Regions from separate parts of the Homo sapiens genome. Here all the other regions are linked to region 3. Evidence: fine-mapped expression QTL. A gene starts in region 3. Each other region holds a variant in brackets. All regions are shown on one strand. Distances are between the middles of the regions.

Evidence for each region. PIP is the estimated chance that this variant, and not a neighbour inherited with it, causes the effect.
Region 1: its variant is the best candidate, but not a certain one, in a credible set for the expression of FOCAD in whole blood (INTERVAL, PIP 0.83).
Region 2: its variant is the best candidate, but not a certain one, in a credible set for the expression of FOCAD in lymphoblastoid cells (TwinsUK, PIP 0.72).
Region 4: its variant is the best candidate, but not a certain one, in a credible set for the expression of FOCAD in nasal epithelium (TOPMed, PIP 0.62).

The regions. Positions count from the first base shown.
Region 1 is chr9:20,650,088-20,655,317 of GRCh38, reverse strand. No RefSeq gene overlaps it. Among named protein-coding and RNA genes, the nearest start is that of MLLT3, 30 kb to the right of the region's middle. The variant A/G (reference allele first, on the strand shown) is at 2,855.
Region 2 is chr9:21,114,721-21,119,950 of GRCh38, reverse strand. No RefSeq gene overlaps it. Among named protein-coding and RNA genes, the nearest start is that of IFNW1, 24 kb to the left of the region's middle. RefSeq lists an enhancer at 701-960. The variant T/C (reference allele first, on the strand shown) is at 2,454.
Region 3 is chr9:20,681,817-20,687,011 of GRCh38, reverse strand. It overlaps FOCAD (focadhesin), which reads right to left and starts at 2,753. Exons shown (of 44, transcript NM_001375567.1): 1 at 2,719-2,753. FOCAD-AS1 (FOCAD antisense RNA 1) reads left to right here and starts at 2,262. Exons shown (of 2, transcript NR_121601.1): 1 at 2,262-2,444; 2 at 3,471-3,710. RefSeq lists an enhancer at 2,311-3,051 and a silencer at 2,451-3,150.
Region 4 is chr9:20,140,777-20,146,006 of GRCh38, reverse strand. It overlaps a transcript of SLC24A2 not described here. Among named protein-coding and RNA genes, the nearest start is that of MIR4473, 270 kb to the left of the region's middle. The variant C/T (reference allele first, on the strand shown) is at 2,093.

The DNA of each region.
Region 1 (5,230 bases), 32 kb after region 3:
CCATGGTAGGCTGAAAGCTAGGCCTCTTGCATCAGTTAGCCAAATTGTGAATGCAAAGGGAAAGTTATTGAGGAAAATTAAAAAGAGCTACTCCAGTGAACACATGAATGCTAAGAAAGCAAAACAGCCTCGTTCCTGATACGGAGAAAGTTTTGGCGGTCAGGATATAAAATCAAACCAGCCACAGCATTCTCTAAAGCCAAAACCTAATCCAGAGCAAGGCTCTAACTCTCTTCAATTCTATGAAGGCTGAGACACATGAGGAAGGTGCAGAAGAAAATTTAGAAGCTAGCAGATTGGTTCATGAAGTTTAAAGAAGGAAGTCATCTTCAAAACATAAAAGTGCAAAGTGAAGCTGCAAGTGCTGATGTAAAAGTTGCAGCAAATTATCCAGATCTAGCTGAGATCACTGATGAAGGAGGAACACTAAACAACATATTTTCAGTGTAGATGAAACACCTTTCCATTGAAAGAATATGCCATCTAGAAATTTTATAGCTAAAGAGGAGAAGTCAGTGCCTTGCTTCAAAGCTTCAAAAGACAGGTTGACCCTCTTGTTAGGGGCTGATGGCTTTCATTTGAAACCAATGCATACTTACTATTCTGAAAATTTTAGGGCCCTTAAAAATGATGCTAAATCCATTCTGCCACTGTTTTATAAGTGAAATCACAAAGCCTGAATGACAGCACTTCTGTTTATAGCATGGTTTACCGAATATTTTAAGCCCCGTGTAAAGACTTACTGCTCAGGAAAAAAAAAAAAAAAAAGATTCCTTTCATCCTCACTGACAATGTACCTGGTTACACAAGAGCTGTGATGGAGATGTACAAGGAGATGAATGTTACTATTATGCCTGCTAACACGACATCTATTCCGCAGCCCACGGATCAAGAAGTAATTTCAGTTTTCAACTCTTTTATTATTACTATCGTTATTGTAAAGCTACAGCTGCCATAGATAGTAATTTGTCTGGTGGATCTCGGCAAAGTAAATTGAAAACCTTCTGGAAGGGGTTAACCATTATATATGCCATTAAGAACATTTGTGACTCATGGGAAGAGGTCAAAATATCAACATGAACAATTTAGAAAAAGTTGATTCCAACCTTCATGGGTGACTTTGAGGGGTTCAAGATTTCAGTAGAGGAAATCACTGCAGATGTGGCAGAAATAGCAAGATAACTATAATTAGAAGTGGAGCCTAGGGTCGGGTGGCTCACACCTGTAATCCCAGCACTTCGGGAGGCCGAGGTGGGCGGATCACGAGGTCAGGAGATCTAGACCATCCTGGCTAACACGGTGAAACCCCGTCTCTACTAAAAATACAAAAAATTATCCGGGCGTGATGGCACACGCCTGTAGTTCCAGCTACTCAGCAGGCTGAGGCAGGAGAATCGCTTGAACCCAGGAGGCGGAGGTTACAGTGAGCCGAGATCTTGCCACTGCACTCCAGCCTGGGCGACAGAGTGAGATTATGTCTCAAAAAAAAAAAAAAAAAAAAGAAAGTGGAGCCTAAAGATGACTGAACTGCTGTAATCTCATGATAGAACTGGAATAGATGAGGAGTTGCTTCTTATGGATGAGCAAAGAAAGCAGGGTTTGAGAGGATTGGCCCCAATTTCTAAAGAAGTTCTGCTGTGGGTAAAATGCTATCAAACAGCATCACATGCTACAGAGAAATCTTTTGCAAAAGAAAGAGTTAATTGATGCAGCAAACTTCATTGTTGTCTTGTTTTCAGATATTTCTGCAGCCACCCCAACCTTCAGCAACCACCACCCGGATCAGTCAGCAGCCATCAACGTTGAGGCAAGACCCTCCTCCAGCAAAAAGATTACAACTCAATGAAGACTCAGATGATTATTAGCATTTTTATTAGTAATATATTAATAAATATTGTGTTTTATTAATAGCAATAAAGTGTTTTTAATTAAGGTAAGTACTTTTTTTTAGACATAATACTGTTACAAACTCAATAGACTCCAGTATAATGTAAATATAACTTTTACATGCACTGGGAAAAAAAATTCTTGTAACTTGTTTTATTCTGATATTTATTGCAGTGATCTGGAACTGAACCTGTAATATGTCCAAGGTATGCTTCTAATCAGCCAAAATGATAAACCATCAGATTGAAAAAACTTCCAGAGTTAATATATTAAAAGGTAATAATGAATGAGAAATAATACTGTACCTTAGTAATCTTAACTCTTTTCTCTGTATACTTTTGTTTCTCAGCTAATGGTTCTATACTAGGGCACTGCAAAGTTAAAGGATTTTCTGAATACCAGAATTTTACTACTAATAGAGCCATTCTAGAATCTGGCCCTATCCATATTTTAGCCCATTGGCACATGATTTATCCATCTCTCTGTAATAATTTATCAATGCTATTACTAACAAATAGATTAGTAAAGGTTCTTGAAAGAACATAAGAAATATATAGTTCTTCTTTCACCCCACCAATAGTAATAATAACTGAATATAAAATGGTGAATTGTAATATAATTATATTTTATATATAATTATAAAAATAATTATATTTTATATATAATTATAAAAATAATTATATTTTATATATAATTATAAAAATAATTATATATATAATATTATATATTTTATATAAATATATATTATATATATAAAATATTATAATTATAACATAATTATAATATAATAATGGTGAATATAAAATATAACATGGCCATGTGCAATGATTCATGCCTGTAATCCCAAAAGTTTGGAAAGTCAAGGTGGGAGGATAGCTTGAAGCCGGGATTACACGATGAGCCTGGGCAACACAGTGAGATCTTCACATCTACAAAAAATAATAATTAAAAAAAATTATCTGGGTAT[A/G]GTCCTATCTACTCCAGGCTGAGATGGGAGGATCACTTGAGCCCAGGAGTTCAAGGTTGCAGTGAGCTGGAATCATGCTACTGCACTCCAGCTTGGGAAACAGAGCAAGATCCTATCTTAAAAAAAAAATGGAGAGAGGTATGCCAAATGGATCATAACTAGTATATGTAAAATGGTGGTGAACAGGGCCTAGATGTATCTTTTATATATTCTTGGACCCCATAGCTGAAAACAGATGCAATATATTAAGTCAGTAAACTGCCGGCTGTAGCACCAGACACTTACATACAAGGTTTGACTAATCTTGGTCATCTGTTCAGGGAAGTACAGAACTGTGGTGTAACCATGTCTTCCCGTTTTTATCTCTTCAATGGGGGAGAGGTGGGATAGATGTGTCAGGCCAGATGCTGCTGGAACAAGAAGACAAGTGTCAGAGGGAGAGGGAGGCAGAGCTGAGACCAAGCGTGTCAGAGGGGTCGCCTGCTTTCCTGCCATTTGAAAACTCATTTCCTAAAGGACAGTTACACTGTGCAATGTAATAATATTTTATCACTAAAAAGACAAGGCAGCTCTACACTTACCAGTATGGAACAGGCTCCAAGTCATATTAAGTTGGGGAAGGGTAATGGGTGGAGAACAAAATGTAGTACAATGTATGTAATATGCTATCATATGTGTATATAATTAAATATATATTTATGTATGTATATGCTTACATACACGTAGAACATGTTTGGAAGAATATTGAAAATTTGGGAGCTGGGTATGGTGGCTCATGCCTGTAGTCCCAGTTACTCAGGAAGCTGAGGTAGGAGGATTGTTTAAGCCCAGGAGTTTGAGACCACCCTGGACAACATAGTGAAAGAAACCTCATCTCCATTATAAATAAAATAAATAAAATAAAATAAAATAAAATAAAACTTGCAAACCTTGGGGGAGGCAAACAACGTAGGGCTTCCATGTAAGGCCACACATGATGGAATTACAACCTTCCAGAGGCATCAATTACATAGGCTCTTGCTACTCAAAGGTGTGGTCTCCAGACCAGCAGCATCAGCATTACCTGAGAGTTTTTTGGAAATGCAGAATCTCAGCTTCTATCCCAGACTTACTGAATCATAATCTACCTTTAAAGAGGACTCTCAATTATTTTTTAATTGCATCAAATGTTGAGAAATACTGTTATAAATGCAAAGTGTATCGAGCCTTCTAGAGTTGTGCACTGCATAACCTTCATAACCAAGAGTAAAGGAAAGATCTGTGAGTAAAGGATGGGAAGAAGTCTCTTCACCATAGAGGCTTTTTTTTGTTTATTTTTTTGAGATGGAGTCTCGCTCTACTGCCCAGGCTGGAGTACAGTGGCACAATCCAGGCTCACTGCAAACTCCACCTCCCAGGTTCAAGTGATTCTCTTGCCTCAGCCTCCTGGGTAGCTGGGATTACAGGCATGTGCCAAAACACCTGGCTAATTTATAGAGCCTTTTTGCACTTTGTACATGTTGAGTCATGTGGTACAAAAAGAATTGTAAATATTGTAAGATAAACTAAAGCAAACAGCACTTTACAGCCTAAAGGGGATGACTTTAATAATTGAGAGTAGGCCAGGCACGGTGGCTCCCACCTGTAATTCCAATATTTTGGGTGGCCTAGACGTGAGGATAGTTTGAGGCCAGGAGTTCAAGACCAGCCTGGGCAACATGGCAAAGCTCCATCTCTACAAAAAATACAAAAATCAGCTGGGTGTGGTGGCACGTGTCTATACTCTCAGCTACTCAGGTTGAGGTGGGGAGCTGCGGGATGGTCAATGGGGGCTTAGGCAGGCGGATCACTTGAGCCTGGGAGATTGAGGCTGCAGTGAGCTACAGTTGTGCCACTGCACTCCAACCTGGGTGACAGAGTGACAGCCTGTCTCAAATAAATAAATAAATAAATAAATAAATAAATAAATAAATAAATAAATATTTGAGAGTAACTAATCATTATGGGATAAGACATTGATGAGGAAAGCCAGTCAATGACAAAGAGCATTTCAACTGAGCACAGTGGTGGTAGTTTTTGGAAGCCATAGAACTGTTTCATGCTTATATCTCAAAGAGATATTGGTTACATCGGGACATTAGTTTAACAACTTTTGAAGATAACTAAGTCTGGTATTGGAAAATCCACGTTATGTGTTTGAGTTCCCAAATGGGAGACTAATGCCTTAAGTGTGACTTCTGTTCTACCTCCCAGTCCTCCCACTTTCTGCCCTCCAGGACTTTTGTACTGTGCTGCCATTTATGAGGTAGCACCAAGCTCATATTTTGCTTCAGACAAAATCATTATTTAGGTTGCAGCCTTAGAGTTATTTTATCATTTCTATAATAAGCAAATAAC
Region 2 (5,230 bases), 430 kb before region 3:
TTCTTCATTAACCTAAGCATAGAAATGGTGTCTTTGGCCCTTCAATCTGAAGGCTCCCATGACACATAAAACTATGATAAAATTAATTTGTATGCCTTTTCACCTATTAATCTATCTGCCTTTTGTCAATTGATTTTCACGGAACCTTCAGAGGTCAAAGGGCAAGATTTCCCCTGGCCCCTACAGCTGCCCACCCAACATCTTCTACCAGGTGCTACCTGGACTCCCTCTGCGAGAAACTCCACATTGGCTCTATCCAATACAGACTTCAGTGAGCCTCCAGCCTGGGTTTACTTTTCTCTTTCGGTATCAAGCACTTGTCTGAGCTGGACGTATTTAATCCTCACAACCACTCTCAGGCATAAATGCAGCCAGGCCTAGAGTTAAGAAGAGAATACACAGACAACACACAGCAGCTGCTGAATAAGCACCAGCTCCATTCCCTCCACAAACAGGTGAACATGTCTATTATCGGTTTTCTGCAGGAGCTTCCTGTCTCTGAAGCAGTTTCTGGCACTTCTTTAAAGTTAAACCAAAAACCCTTCATACCATTAAAACTTACAACTAAATGCAGTTTTATTTCATCATAGATAAACAGGGACTGTACAATGACTGCACAGGGACTGTACAGTGAACCGGATGGTGCAAAAATAACAATAAGAATGATGCAACAAGTGAAAAGGGAACTAAATGTGAGTTGACAAATTGGATTTGAAGAATGGAGCGGGGATTCCTCTCTTGCCTGGCACGTGCCTGAGGAGAGTGCAGCTTATCTTCACAGAGCACAGGATCCTTTTTCTGGCTTCCTGAAAGATGCCTGTGTTATTCTGGTGAAAGCTTTTAGCTCCTCAAATGGTAGACAGAACCAAGAAACCAGGAAAGTAAAGTGTGCCATTGTAGACAGCTGGTGTGTGTGTGCCAGGTAGCAGTGCTTCTGTCTATACCCTGGGATCTTTGCTGCAACATGCTTGCTTCAGTCACCAAGTGAATGGCTATTTCTGCCTCTCCATTGTGAGTAGTTGAGCTGGCATTAAAATGTTCCCTGGCCAGTTTTCTTGAAATTAACTCACTTTCCTGCAGAACTAGCACATTAGGGAATAATCCTCCAATCAGTTTCAAATAGGAGAGCTAACGTTTAAGTACCCTTAGTTAAGTGCCAGGAATCATTCTGAGTGTGTTATATAAATTAAACAATTAATCCTTGCCACAATTTTACGAGGTAGGACTATGGTTATCTTAATTTTACAGGTAAAGGAACTGGGCACACAGAGTTCTATTTCCTTTTCCTGTGTTAAGACATCCAAAAATAGTATTCTGCTCCTTGAAATAAAAAATATGATATGGAATATGAAAGGAAAATCTTCAGGGAAATAGCATAAATAAAAAACAATCACAACTTCTGGAAATCAAGGACACACTTAGAGAAATGCAGTTTTAGCAATAGAATTGAACAAGCAACAGAAAGAACTTCAGAGCTCTAAGACAAGGTTTTTGAAGTAACCCAATCCAACTAAGGCAAATAAATAAGAATTTTAAAAAAGAACAAAGTTTCCAAGAAGTTTGGTATTATGTTAAATGACCAAACCTTAGAATAATTGGTGTTCTTGAGGAAGAAGAGAAATCTAAAAGTTTGGAAAACATATTTGAAAATACAGTTGAGGAAAACTTCCCTGACCTTGGTAGAAACCTAGACATCCAAATACAAGAAGCTCAAAGAACACCTGACAAATTCATCTCAAAAAGATCATCATCTAGGCTCATAGTCACCAGGTTATCTAAAGTCAAGATGAAGAAAGAAGCTTAAGAGCTGTGAGGCAAAAGCATCAAGTAACCTGTAAAGAAGAAACCTATGAGAGTAACGACAGATTTCCCAGCAGAAACTCTACAAGCTAGAAGGGATTGGGGTCATATTTTAAGCCTCCTTAAAAAAAAAACAACTATCAGCCAAGAATTTTGTATCCACCAAAACTAAACTTCATCAATGAAGGAAAGATAGTCTTTTCCACATAAACAAATGCTGAGAGAATTCACCACTACTAAGCCAGCACTACAAGATCTGCTAAAAAGAGCTCTAAATCTTGAAACAAATCCTTGAAACACCAAGCTAAAACCTCCTTAAAGCATAAATCTCACAGGAACTATATAACAGTAACACAATGAAAAAAAAAGGTATTTAAGCGACAAACAGGCTGATGAATAGAATAGTCCCTTACACCTCAGTACTAATATTAGAATGGCAAAATGGATAGGAATTCACCAATCAAGTTTCTGCTGTCTTCAGGAGATTCACCTAACACATAAGGACTCACATAAACTTCAGGTAAAGGGGTGGAAAAAGATATTCCGTGCAAATAGACACCAAAAGTGAGCAGAAGTAGCTATTCTTACATCACACAAAACAAGCTTTAAAGCAACAGCAGATAAAAAAGACAAAAAGGGAAATTATATAATGG[T/C]AAAAAGACTAGTCCAACAGGAAAATATCAGAATCCTAAATATATATGCACCTAAAACTAGAGTTCCCAAATTTATAAAACAATTACTACTAGACCTAAGAAATGAGATAAATGACAACACAATAATAGTGGGGGACTTTAATACTCCACTGACAGCACAAGACAGGTCACCAAGACAGAAAGTCAACAAAGAAAAAATGGACTTAAACTATAGCCTAGAATAAATGGACTTAACAGATATTTATAGAATACAGGATAGAATGCTATCCAACAACTGCAGAATATACATTCTTTTCATCAGCACATGGAACATTCTCCAAGATAGACCATATGATAAGTCATAAAACAAGTCTCAGTAAATTTAAGAAAATTGAGATTACATCAAGTACTCTATCGGACCATAGTGGAATAAAATTAGAAATCAACAGCAAAAGGTACCCTCAAAACCATGCAAATACATGCAAATTAAATAACCTGCTCCTGTATTATCATTGGGACAACCATGAAATCAAGATGGAAATTTAAAAATTTTTTGAACTGAATGATAATAGTGACACAACCTATCAAAACTTCCGGGATACAGCAAAAGTGGTGCTAAGAGGAAAGTTCGTAGCATTAAATGCCTACATCAAAATGTCTGAAAGAGCACAAATAGACAATCTAAGGTCACACCTCATGGAACTGGAGAAACAAGAACAATCCAAACCCAAACCCAGCAGAAGAAAAGAAATAACAAAGACCAGAGGAGAACTAAATGAAATTGAAACAAAAAAATACAATAGATAAATGAAACAAAAGGCTAGTTCTTCGAAAAGATAAATAAAATTTATGGACCATTAGTTAGATTAACCAAGAAAAGAAGAGAGAACACCCAAATAAGCTCAATTAGAAATGAAATGTGAGATATGGCTACTGATTCCACAGAAATACAAAAGATTATTCAAGGCTACTATGAACACCTTTATGTGCATAAACTAGAAAACATAGGAAATCGATAAATTCCTGGAAATACACAACCCTCCTAGATTAAACGAGGAAGATATAGCAACCCTGAACAGACCAATAACAAGCAGTAAGATTGAAGTGGTAATCTAAAAATTGCCAACAAAAAAAGTCCAGGACCGCACACATTAACAGCTGAATTCTATCAGACATTCAAAAAAGAATTTATACCAATCCTATTGACACTATTCCAATCAATACTTTTTGTTTTAATACAGAAGCTTAAGCAATTTATATTTATTATTTTCACCATTATGTGCTCAGTTCTCAACTTTGGTTTCTGCTTTACTTTTTATGTTACTTATATATGTTTTTGATGTTTTAACTGCATTCAATTCTCCAATTATTATTAATTTTAAAACAATTCCTTTTTTAAAAGAAATTTAAATTTTCTCTTAATTTTTTATTTAAAATTTTTCATAATACTTTTAACTGATTTTACTCTTCACTGCCAGTTCTAACTAGGACTGTCACATTTTTAGTCAGCATAGTTTGTGTAACAGATATGATATTGGTAGACGTGCGTGTTAATTTATGTTCATATATAAATTGATAAGAATGACCAAGAAGTTAGTGAATAAAAAATTATTCCTGAATTTATGAAATAAAAATGCATTAATCTGAATGTTATTTGGAAGCAATACAATAGATTAGTGCCACTTATCCAAATATATTCAAGAGAAATTTTTTTAAGGTAAAGCTTATGACACCATACTCATTATTGCCATGTTCATATTTTCTATTTCTCATGATTCAGTCTTGGTAGACAGTATGCTTCTAAGAATTTCTGTATTTCTTCTATGTTATTCAACTTGTTGGTATATAATTGTTCATAGTAGCCTCTTATGATCCTTCATATTTCTAAAATATCAGTTGTTATGTCTCTTTTTTATTTATAATTTTAGTTGAATCTTCTCTCTCTCCCCCACCCCCCACCTTTTTTTCAGTTAGTCTAGCTACACATTTGTCAATTTTGTTTATCTTTTCAAAAACCACTCTTAGTTTTGTTGATTTTTTAAAATTTTTCTTTTTATTCTCTCATTTGATTCTGCTCTGTTTAATATTTCCTTTCTTCTGCTAACATTGGGCTTTGTTTTCTTTTTCTAGTTACTTGAGGTGAAAAGTGGTTTATCTGAAATCTTTCTTTCCTTCTTATGTACACATGTATCACTAGAAACCTCCCTCTTAGAACTGCTTTTGCTGCATTCCTTAAATTTTGCAATGTCGTGTTTCTGTTTTTGCTTCAAAATACTTCTTGACTTCTTTTTTAACCTCTTGGTTATTCAGGAGTATGTTGTGTATATATATTATCATATATAATACATTATATTATATATGATAATATATATAATTTAATATATATAATATATACAATTTGTAAATTTTCCAATTTTCCTCCTGTTAATTTATTTTTATTTTTTATTATAGTCAGAAAAGATACTTGATATGATTTCAATCTTTTAAATTTGCTTCTTCATTGGTTTACTGTAAACCATTCAAAATGATCCATCCTTTGTTGAAAATGGGGTATTGAAGTCTCCTATTATGATCATATTGCTGCCTATTTCTCCATTCAGATCTGTTAATATTTGCTTTGTATATTTTGGTGTTCTGATGTTGAGTACATATATATTTATAATTGTTGTATTCTCTTGATGAAATTATCCCTTTAACATTATATAATGACCTTCTTGTTATAGTTTTTTTTTTACCTAAAGTCTATTTTGTCTAGTATATTTACCCCAGCTCTCTTTTGGCTATCAATTGTGTGAAAT
Region 3 (5,195 bases):
GAAAAAAAAAAAAAACTATGAGGCCAGAAGTACTTAGAGGGTTACAAAAACTACATTTCAATCCATTGTTTGAAAATAGATGGGCTCTTCCACATCACTTAAAACTTTGTTGTTTCAAATCATTTACATGGAGGAAATTCACAAATATCCCTTGTCCTATCAGCTTAGCAAATCTTGTTTCTTATCATGTGGAAATAGTAACAAAACCTCCATCAATCTATTACTAATTGTGAATCACAGACTTATACTCATATAAGTATACCATACTTTATTATACCATGCATCTCTAGATCTATAGATTTCTCATCTCCTAAAGAAATACTTACTACCCACTTGATCAAAATTTAAATTATCACCCTAATTTTCTTTTTGTGCTTAAACCAAGTTCTTTGTTATACATCAAGAAATACTGATTAAGATCAAGATTTGTTATAGACTAATAATCCTTAAACTATTATTTCCTTACACTTCCTCCAAATATAGTTATTATTTCTCATTGTGGTTTTTTCCCGCTAGAAGGTTAATGTCCTCAGCTCTTGAATTTTCCCCATTAACCTTGCAATCTTGATCAGGTCCATTTCTAGAACTGAAAGATGTAACACCAACGCGGAGGGATCACTTGAGGTCAGGATTTCGAGACCAGCCTGGCCAACATGGTGAAACTCCGTCTCTACTAAAAATACAAAAATTAGCTGGGTGTGGTGGCATGCGCCTGTAATCCCAGCTACTTAGGAGGCTGAGGCAGAAGAATCACTTGAACCTGGGAGGCGGAGGTTGCAGTGAGCCGAGATCGCAGCACTGCACTCCAGCCTGGGCGACAGAGTGACCCTGTCTCCAAACAAACAAAAAAATAGCAAATGCAAAATTTTAAGAAGTTATATTTTCTTAAATTTTCCAAACTCCTAATAGTGATATTAACAATTTAATTCAACTAATCACTTGTGGACAATATCCCAAAAGTATCATGAAGCTAAGAATATTATGTCTCAGACTGTTTCATAAATCATTTTAAACGGGGAAAAAGGCCAAACGATTTACCGGTAAGCACCATCAATCAATCAACAAATGAAAAACTCTGGTTATACGTCCATGAAAATTTTGATTTCAAACTATTTATTACAGGGCGCGAGGCTGTGTTCCGCCTCCTCCAGCTCCTCCTGATAACCTTTTGGTTATCAGGCGTCAACTGGAGACAACAATCAGTTAAAATCCAGTAAATTTGGGGTTAATGAAACAAATGTTAAAATAGATATAATATTGATAAACATTAGCCAAGAGATGGTAACTACCTAACATTGATTAAGTAAGCAAATAATCAAGGCAGAGGTTTTAGCTTCCACTAATCTATAAAAGCAAGTGAAAATGCTTTGAAAATTGCATTTTTATGCAATTGTTTCAATATCATACCTTTGTATGTAACATTAAAAAGCTCATGATTACTTCATTTCAAAATTCAGATGAGTCACAGTGCTTTCTACGCAGGAATTGGATGTGAATCAAAATTGTAAACATGCACTTGCTTGGTAGTCAAAAAGTGAATGTGGACAGATACAATGTTCGTTGACACAGTAAAACATAATCATAAAATGCATCCTGTGTTTTTAAAATAGTTACTTCCTGTTAACACAGTTCAGGAAACATGCCATCTACCCTCCTCTCCTGGAAAATCTCAAAATTATACTAATCCCATTCCTCTTCTTACAGATAGGCCACTGAAACCTGGAGTCATTACTGATACAGTTATCAGGATTACACCCTCAGAGCCACGATGGTTTCAGGGATACTAGAACCTGAAAATAACAAAAAAAAAAAAAATTTCCAACTCAAATCTAGACAATAAAACTAACATATAAACTGGAATAAAACGCAGGAAATGCCGATTTTAATACCTGGTATGAGGCTGACCATTAAGGCATCCATCAAAAAAGTTTGGAATGTATGAATGAATGACTGCATGAAATTGGCAGGATTTCATTCATTTCAAAAGCTCCAAATTCAGGAACCACACTGAGATATCAGGACGCCACAGCTGAAACTAAAACTCATGAAGGGTAAATGCAACATAACTGCACGTCTCCACGCGTTAGCTGCTGCGAAAATTTCAAAACATACATCTAACATACTCTTTCTTCAAGTAATTGCCGCAAGTGCGGACGGAGCCAGAGAACTAGGAGACTGAAAACAGGCCCTGCTCACCCATAAGCCTTTGCATTATAAGTGGACATGATCTGAGTGAGTCACCGGGAATGAGAAGGAGACAGTCACCCCAGGCCAGGCAGGACGCGGCCAGAATCTCCTGCTCTGCCCCCAACTAGGGAACCGGTCGAAGGAGAGTGGGACGACTGCAACCTGCTGCAGCTAAGTATGCAAGGATCGCGCCGACCGGCTTCCGAGTCGAGATCCCACTAAGTCCCACCGCAGTCACCACAGCCAGCCCTGCCCAGGTATCTCGGAGCTCCGTAACCTCAGAAGGCCTAGTCCTCCAGAAGCTGAGAGCCCCAGCAGGACCGGACGAGGGCAAAAAGCCCCCTCCCGGCTGCCCCTCGCCGCGACGCGGCCCTGCCGCCACATGCTCCACTGCCCCGTCTCCCAGCTCAGCCCCAGCCCCGCAGGGCCTCAGCCGCCCTCCATGCAAGCCGACCGGGCCGCAGGCGGCGCGACCCGGCGGCTCCCGAGCAGGGGTGCAGCGGTGGCAGCCCGCCGCCCCGCACGGCTTACCTCCCTTCTGCCACAAGCTCAGCCCAGCGCCGGCTGCCTGACGTGGCCCGCCCCGCCGCCTCGAACGCCCGGGGGCGGGGACTGCAGGAGAGAGCCAATGGGCTGCATATCGCGAGGCCCTGTTCCGCCTCCTCCGGCTGGGGCCCGCCCTCCCCGGCTCGCGCGCACGCGCGTCTAAGGCCCGGGCCGCGCACTGCGGTTGAAAGGCGGCGTGGGCGGCGGACCCGCGCTCTGCAGCCGAGCTGGTGCGGGGAGGGCTGCGCGCGGGGGCTGGCTGTGGAGCAGCACCGCAGTGAGGAGTTAGCCCAAGGAAAATCAGATTAAAGGAAACTGCCTAGAGATGCCACTGCAGCGTGCCCGGGTAGTCCTGTTGGCAGCCTGCCCCTATGCAGCTTTTGGCAATACAGAACAGCTTCTTGGTATTTGGAGATTTTGTTTCTCGGGGGAAATAAATAATACTGATAACATTAAGGATTCAGAAAATTTAAAGCAGACAGCCGACTTGCCGCGAAGACGCTTCGTTCTTCGCCTAATAGCTACTTGGTGTCTTTACTTCATTTGGCCAACACATAACACTGCAGCTCTCCACGCCACTGTGGTATATCCACTTGTTAGATAGTCCTGAGGTAGTTCTAGCCCAAGTGTTTCTGCTGATCTAATCTGGGGGGAATTGGCGCGAGTAATTATTCTGTTACGATTTTGCGCAATACTTACTGAATGATAAACATGTATTTTCTCGTGGGGCGGGGCAGGGGCTCCCACGTGAGAAGGCTGTAACAGACAGACAGCAGCCACGATGAAACACGCTGAAAAGAGCCAGCAGAAAAAAACGAGGAGAGACTGGTATGACGGAGTGGAATTCCGGTTGTGGATGACAGAATGGAAATTTTACGCAAGATGAAAGAGTTAAGACAAATTACTCTAAAAATATCTGACTTAGTTGTTTCTAAACCCTGGGGCACCCTTAGGAAAAAATAAAAATAAAAAAACAAGTGCCTGGGCCTCATCACTTGGTTGAAAAAGGTCTGCTGCCAGATCTTGACATTGATATTTTTCTAAGTTTCCAAAGTCATTTTAATGTGTAGACAAGAAGTTCTGTTTCTCATTTGTAGGAAGAATTTGGTTCCCCATCACCTCAGAAAAGTAATTATGTATCACAGACCGTTAACAGTTTTCCCAATAACCAACTATGCATTCACCCTCTAAGAATTTATCTAAATTAATCTTGGGGCCAGGTGGGGGGGCTCACACCTGTAATCCCAGCACTTTGGGAGGCCGAGGAGGGCGGAGTTCAAGACCAGCCTAGGCAACGTGGTGAAACCCCATCTCTACTAAAAAAAACATACAAAAATTAGCCCGGCGTGGGGTTGCGCGCCTGCAGTCACGGCTACTCTACTCAGGAGGCTGAGGCAGGAGAATCGCTTGAACCCGGGAGGCGGAGGTTGCAGTGAGCCGAGGTGGCGCCACTGCACTCCAGCCTCTGATGGAGTGAGACTGTCACAATCAATCATTCAATCAATCAATATTGAACCTACTTAAAGTTATTCAACCTCTGTTATCCTTTGCTTCAAAGGAGTTTTATAAGGCTTATAATTCCCTTTTTATGGACTTTGATGATACTCTCTTTCAGTCTTCCAAATGCACCAGTATTTCTTTTAGGACTATTTTAATATTTTTTCTTCTATTCCTATATTTCTTGAGGCTCATTAGTCAAAATTATAATTAAACACATAACTCTGTAAACAGCGCTGTTCTAAGTATATAAATTTATTTAATCCACAGAACAACTTTATGAGGCAGTTACAGTTATTACCCACATTTTATAAATAAGGAACCTGAAGTACAGCAAGTGAAGCATCTTGACCAAGGTCATGCACCTACCTAATGGCCAGGCCAAAACTTGAATCCAAGCACCCTGGTGCTCAATGAGTAAACGTACTGCCTCTGTTGTAGAAAGCCTGGTTTTAGGAACACACAGGGAAATGCCCATTTAAAGAATGATATTGAGTCTACTTTTGACACCGTCTTATTATGTTCAGGCTGCTATAACAAAGTATCTTAGACTGGGTAATTTATAAACAATAAAAATTTATTGTTCACAGTTCTGCAAGCCGGGAAGTCCAAGCAAGGTGCCAGCAGATTTGGAATATGGTGAGGTTCCATTCCTCATGGATGGTGCCTTCTGTGTATCATCACAGGATAGAAGGGGAAATAGATTACCTGAAGCGTCTTTTATAAGGGCACGACAGGAGTCCTCATAACCTAATCACCTCCCAATGGCCCCACCTCTTAATCCTGTTGCATTGGAGTTTAGGCTTCAACACATTAACTTTGGGGGACACAAACATGTAGGCCACAGCAGACACCTATCCTAGATTCAGATTTTGGGCAGGATTGAGAAACTTGACCATTAAACTTGGAGCCTAGAACCGATTTGACTGCTTTTACTGCAGATCTAGGGTTAAGCTGGAAGTCCA
Region 4 (5,230 bases), 540 kb after region 3:
TATTTAATGCCATACTATGCAACCATTAGCAAGACTGCATAGAAAAATATGTACTGACTTGACAAGATATACAAAATAAAATGTTAATATAAAACCAAATTATATTATAAAAACAAATTTTATATCTATATATATAGCAGAATCCCATCTTTGTGAAAAAGAAATACATGTATGTATGGCTATTTGTATATGACATATACATATATGCATATACACATATACATATATGTGCTTGTATATCAAATTTAAGCACAGAATAAATCCAGGAAAATAGTGCTTTTATATGTTAACAGTGGTTATCCCTGAGGAAGGGGTAGGATTGTATATGTTGGATGTGACCTGGGACTTTTGCCTCTTCCTGTATATATGTGTAATTGCACACGTGCACACACACACACACACACATACATGTGATGGAATCATAGGAGCAATTTACTTTTTTTTAAAAAAAAGAACTCCTTTCTTTTCTTTCTTTGCCCACCAGTTCCTGAAAATCTTACATTCTTAGGAAAATCACTATAATCGAGAATAAATTACTATTCACTGTTGAGATCGATGACTACTAAAAAAATATAAATTGATCCTATGGGCTTCTAGGAAACTGAGAGATTGCTTCCAAATGCATGGGGGTAAAAGTGGAGAGACAGTGAAGAGATGAAAAAATGTTATATCCCCCATGTTATATCCCCCACTATAACCCTTACTTTTGCAGACCATAAGGCTTGCTTTCATAGAGCAACGAGCCCACTTTTAAATAGTCTTTAATATTGCCCCTGCTGAAGTTATCAAAATGCCTATAAATTCCAGTATTGGGGGCACCTATACTGCAGCTCCCTGACTGCCTCTTGAGTTGGAATTTGCCACAGTTATTCCATATGAAATCCTGAATTCCAATTTTTGGTTCACAAAATACGTTTTCTCTACTCAGGTCTAACTACAGCACTTTGCCTGTAACAATTACTTGATAAGTAGTTGCTGCTCGGTGGATTATCAGGTGCGTTTAAGGAAAATAACATATCTGATGATCATCTTTAAACTCAAAAGTCTATTATCCTTCTTTGGAAGGACAGGATTATTGCTTGAGGCCTCTTCAAGCCATCTAATCAAGAATAGAAAACTATCAGAATGAAATGAACTAGCACCACTGAAGTTTTCTTTTTTTTTTAAACTAACATTTCCAAAGAGCATTTACAGAGTGTTTTATGAATGAATGCAGAATATAGCACCGAACGAGGCAAACCTTTCTTATGAGGACAGCCGTATAGTTAAATCCAAGCATGCAAGATTGAATGACCCCGATTGACAACCCTTGCCCTCTGTTACAAACAAATGGGACCAGGAATGTGGTCCCCCCACAGTGCACTGGGGGATGCCTGCACCCACTACCCTCTGCCATCCATCTCCTCCTCCTCTGATTTGTGTGTGTTTTTGTTAAACAGTGGATCTTGCTATGCTTTTCAGAAAGCTGACAAGAAGCAAGCTGAAAATTAAAAATGGGTGCCGAGAGGCTTTACGGGAGTCTAAATAAACAGCCCGACAGGAAAGACGTGTGGCAGGCTAAGGTTTCAGGCTAGTGGTCGGAGCGAGCTAACAGACATCCGTATAACAGAAGGCTGTGTTTGTTTTCCCTGTCCCTGCTCTAGCAAATTTATTGGGTTATCTGTCTTATTTTGACACTTGGGTGTTTAAGGTTTCTGTTTTAGGTGTCTAAAGACATAAAAAAATTATTGTACAGTTTACATTCCTGGCAGAAGCTTTGACATGTGCTAGCTGAAAAGTTCCTATCTGCCAGTGATTTCACAGAAAAAGCCTCAGAGAGTTGGGTTTTCATAGAGGGTCCAAGAATCCTCTGTGAAAAGCACCAAGAACAAAGGGTTTCTTCTTTTATTTCTGTCCTTATCTTCCTATTGTCTAGTGAAGAGTGGCCACCAAGCCATTTGCTTCCCGTTGTACTGGATTTTTACTTACCATGTAACATATAGGAAACCTTACCCCTGTCTTGTAGAGGAAGAGATTATTTCCATCAGTGGAGCTTGCACTCAACATAGATCAACAAGATACAGTTTGATTTGCTGTAGAGGTCAGGAAGGCA[C/T]GGCAGTGTTGAGTGAATTCTAGATGTTATGATAACGCACCATCAAAATATTAGAGTCATATGTGTATAAATATTGACATTTTGATGATGGATGTACTAAACCACCCACAAGCAATGTTAATATATTTCTTCTTTTCAGAATACCAATTTGGAAATAATTTTACTTATAAATGTATACCTGCCTTGTTTCTCAAAGGTTTTGTGGCTGCAGTAACTAATTAAGGAGTGGTAGGGAATTTAAATAGCTCTCTGACATAAACCTATTTTCATTCATTCATTCAAATGGCATTCAATAAACACTCATGTATTTAATTGTTAGGAAGCAGAAACAGACATGGGAGAAAAGTATAAAACACAGTCTGTGGCTCCAATGGAAGCTTATAGTTTTTTCTCTCATCATCTTTTGCAGTAGACAAACTGCCTGGCATAGTCTGGTCGAATTTTCATGATACCAGGTGATCAGCACTAAGTCAAGGCAGGAAAAACAGTCTATTTTTTTCCCTAGGGCAAATAGCTTTGCAGCAGCTGAGGCAATTTGAGCATATTACTTTTTGTTTCTTTGTTCAGTTTTCCTTTTCTTCTGTATCTTTTTCTCCTCTTTTCTCTATGGCCCAAGATTGGGAGTTGGCAGCTGGTAGCTATAATTTCTCTGCCTCACAATGCTCTTGGCAAAGGCTCATCATTCCAGCCACTGGACAAATAGTTTTCTCTTCTTGGGCACTCTCTTTTCCCACCTGCTGCATTTGCATGTCACTTCCACTCACCTCACTATTGGTAAAGGCTGCCATTTTGTGCAAAAATCACAGATTTTTAGAATCAGCAGACCTACATTTGAATGCAGACTCTGTCACTTCATTGGTGGGTGACTCTGAGCCTCAGTTTATAATTGGTAAAAATGTGTATAGTCATATCTGTTTCACAGAAAGCTTACATGTGATCATGCATTGAATGGAGCGAGCATGGCCCCTGGCTCCAGCAGATGACCTCCTTCCTTCTTCAGGTCGTATAAGACATGGAAAGGCCGGGCACGGTGGTTCATGCCTGTAATCCCAGCACTTTGGGAAGCCAAGGTGGGTGGATAACTTGAGGTCAGGAGTTCGAGACCAGCCTGACCAACACGGTGAAACCCCGTCTCTACAAAAAATACAAAAATTAGCTGGGCGTGGTGGCAGGTGCCTGTCATCCCAGCTCCTTGGGAGGCTGAGGCAGGAGAATCTCTTGAACCCAGGGGTGGAGGCTGCAGTGAGCTGAGATTGTGCCACTGCACTTCATCCCAGGCTGCAGAGTGAGACTCCATGTCAAAAAAATAAAAACAAAATAAAAATAAAAATTAAAAAAGACATGGAGAAATGAGGCATTTGAGAGAGCCAAAGAAAATAGTTGTGTCGTAGAAACTTTATCGTTCATTGCTTTCCTGTTCATTTCAGACAAACGTAGTGTAAATTAATTTTTTAAAAAACAAAAATATTTAAGTGACCTTGCAGTCTGGTTTATAATGGATATATATTAATACTATGTCCATGTCTGAAAACAGGCTTTGGGAGGCAAATAAAAAATACGTAACACAAATTTTATTTGCTAGTAGCTTAGGAACAACTTGAAGAGACATTTGTACAATAAAAAGTCAAATATTAATAAAAGTAAGTACTTCATGGGTGTTACTAATCAATCGGTAATTATTGAGCAGGTAAGTATTCTTTCCTGCAGAACTCTTCGAAGAGCCTTTAATCTGTTAACATACAGTAAGAATCTCTAAAAAGGGAAATAGTAAGCAAAGTCTTCTACACCTATTTCATCATCGAACTCTTTAAATAATAATAATTATTATTATTTCAGTAGAGTCTCATTCTGTCATCCAGGCTGGAGTGCAGTGGTGTAATTTTGGCCCACTGCAACCTCTGCCTCCCAGGTTCCAATAGTTCTCCTGCCTCAGCCTCCCAGTTAGCTGGGATTATACGCACCTGCCACTACACTGAGCTAATTTTCGTGTTTTGAGTAGAGATGGGGTTTTGCCATGTTGGCGAGGCTGGTCTTGAACTCCTGAGCTCAAGTGATTCACCTGCCTTGGCCTCTCAAATGCTGGGATTACAGGCGTGAGCCACCGTGGCCCGCCTTTTTAAATTATTTTAATCTTATCTTTATAGCGTATTAGGTGCAGAAAGAGAGGTTGGGGTGATGGAAGGGCTTGAGTGAGCATAAGGACGCTACCCTGCAGTAGCGTCGTTTCTAGAAAGGGCAGCATCATGATTCAAGTATCAAAGAGATGTCTTAGAAAGGGTGTGTGGTGGTGATATACTAGATCATGAGGCAGGGCTTTCTCAAGTATTATAGAATGATCAGAATATCAGCCAGATGACAGTTAATTAAGGAGATGTTAGGCTGTGACATACCGTCAGCTGGTAGCAGAAGACTCTTCACAGTCATTTCAGAAGTGAAATATGAGACCAAGCCAAGAGAGTTGTAGCTCAAGAGGGATTATTCGGGATAGGAGAATTAGAGGCTTGATAGATTTTAAGGGTAAAACCACAACAATGAGACGACCACAAATGGTCTTGGAGTAAGGGGGGCTAACTGCAGGATCAAGTCCCTACACAGAGTAGAGAGAAATAAGACAGCGAGCGTAGGCCGGGGAAGCTGCTGAGACATGGAAGAGATAGAGGAAAGACAGCTGTCTTGCCTCTATCTCTTACCAGGTGAGCCTCATCAAGTGCTGTATTCATTCTTAATTATACCAGCTGTCCTGTGGCATAGAAATGGTGGTTTTCAATTTGTAGACATGGAAACTTGCCCAAGCTTACACAGCCACTACATGGTGGGCGGATCAGGCATTTGAACCCTGGTTTTGCTGCTCCCAAAGCCATAAAATATAAGTGATGATACAGAAATCTTCTGAGGAGGAGAGGAGAGATGATAAAGGAGCTCATGGTTAGTAGCCTCAGTTTTTCAGGAGGCGAGACAAGGAGATTGATTTGAGTGGTGGTTGAATTGGAGGTGAGGGAAAGCAGGTGAGCGGTAGAGGAAAGAGTTTGGAATTTTCAATTTTGGAAAGGCAGGACTTTCGTTTCTAAGGCAATGGAGACATATTTGCAAGTTAGCAGCAGACTCACACAGTATAAATACAATAATCATAATGTATTG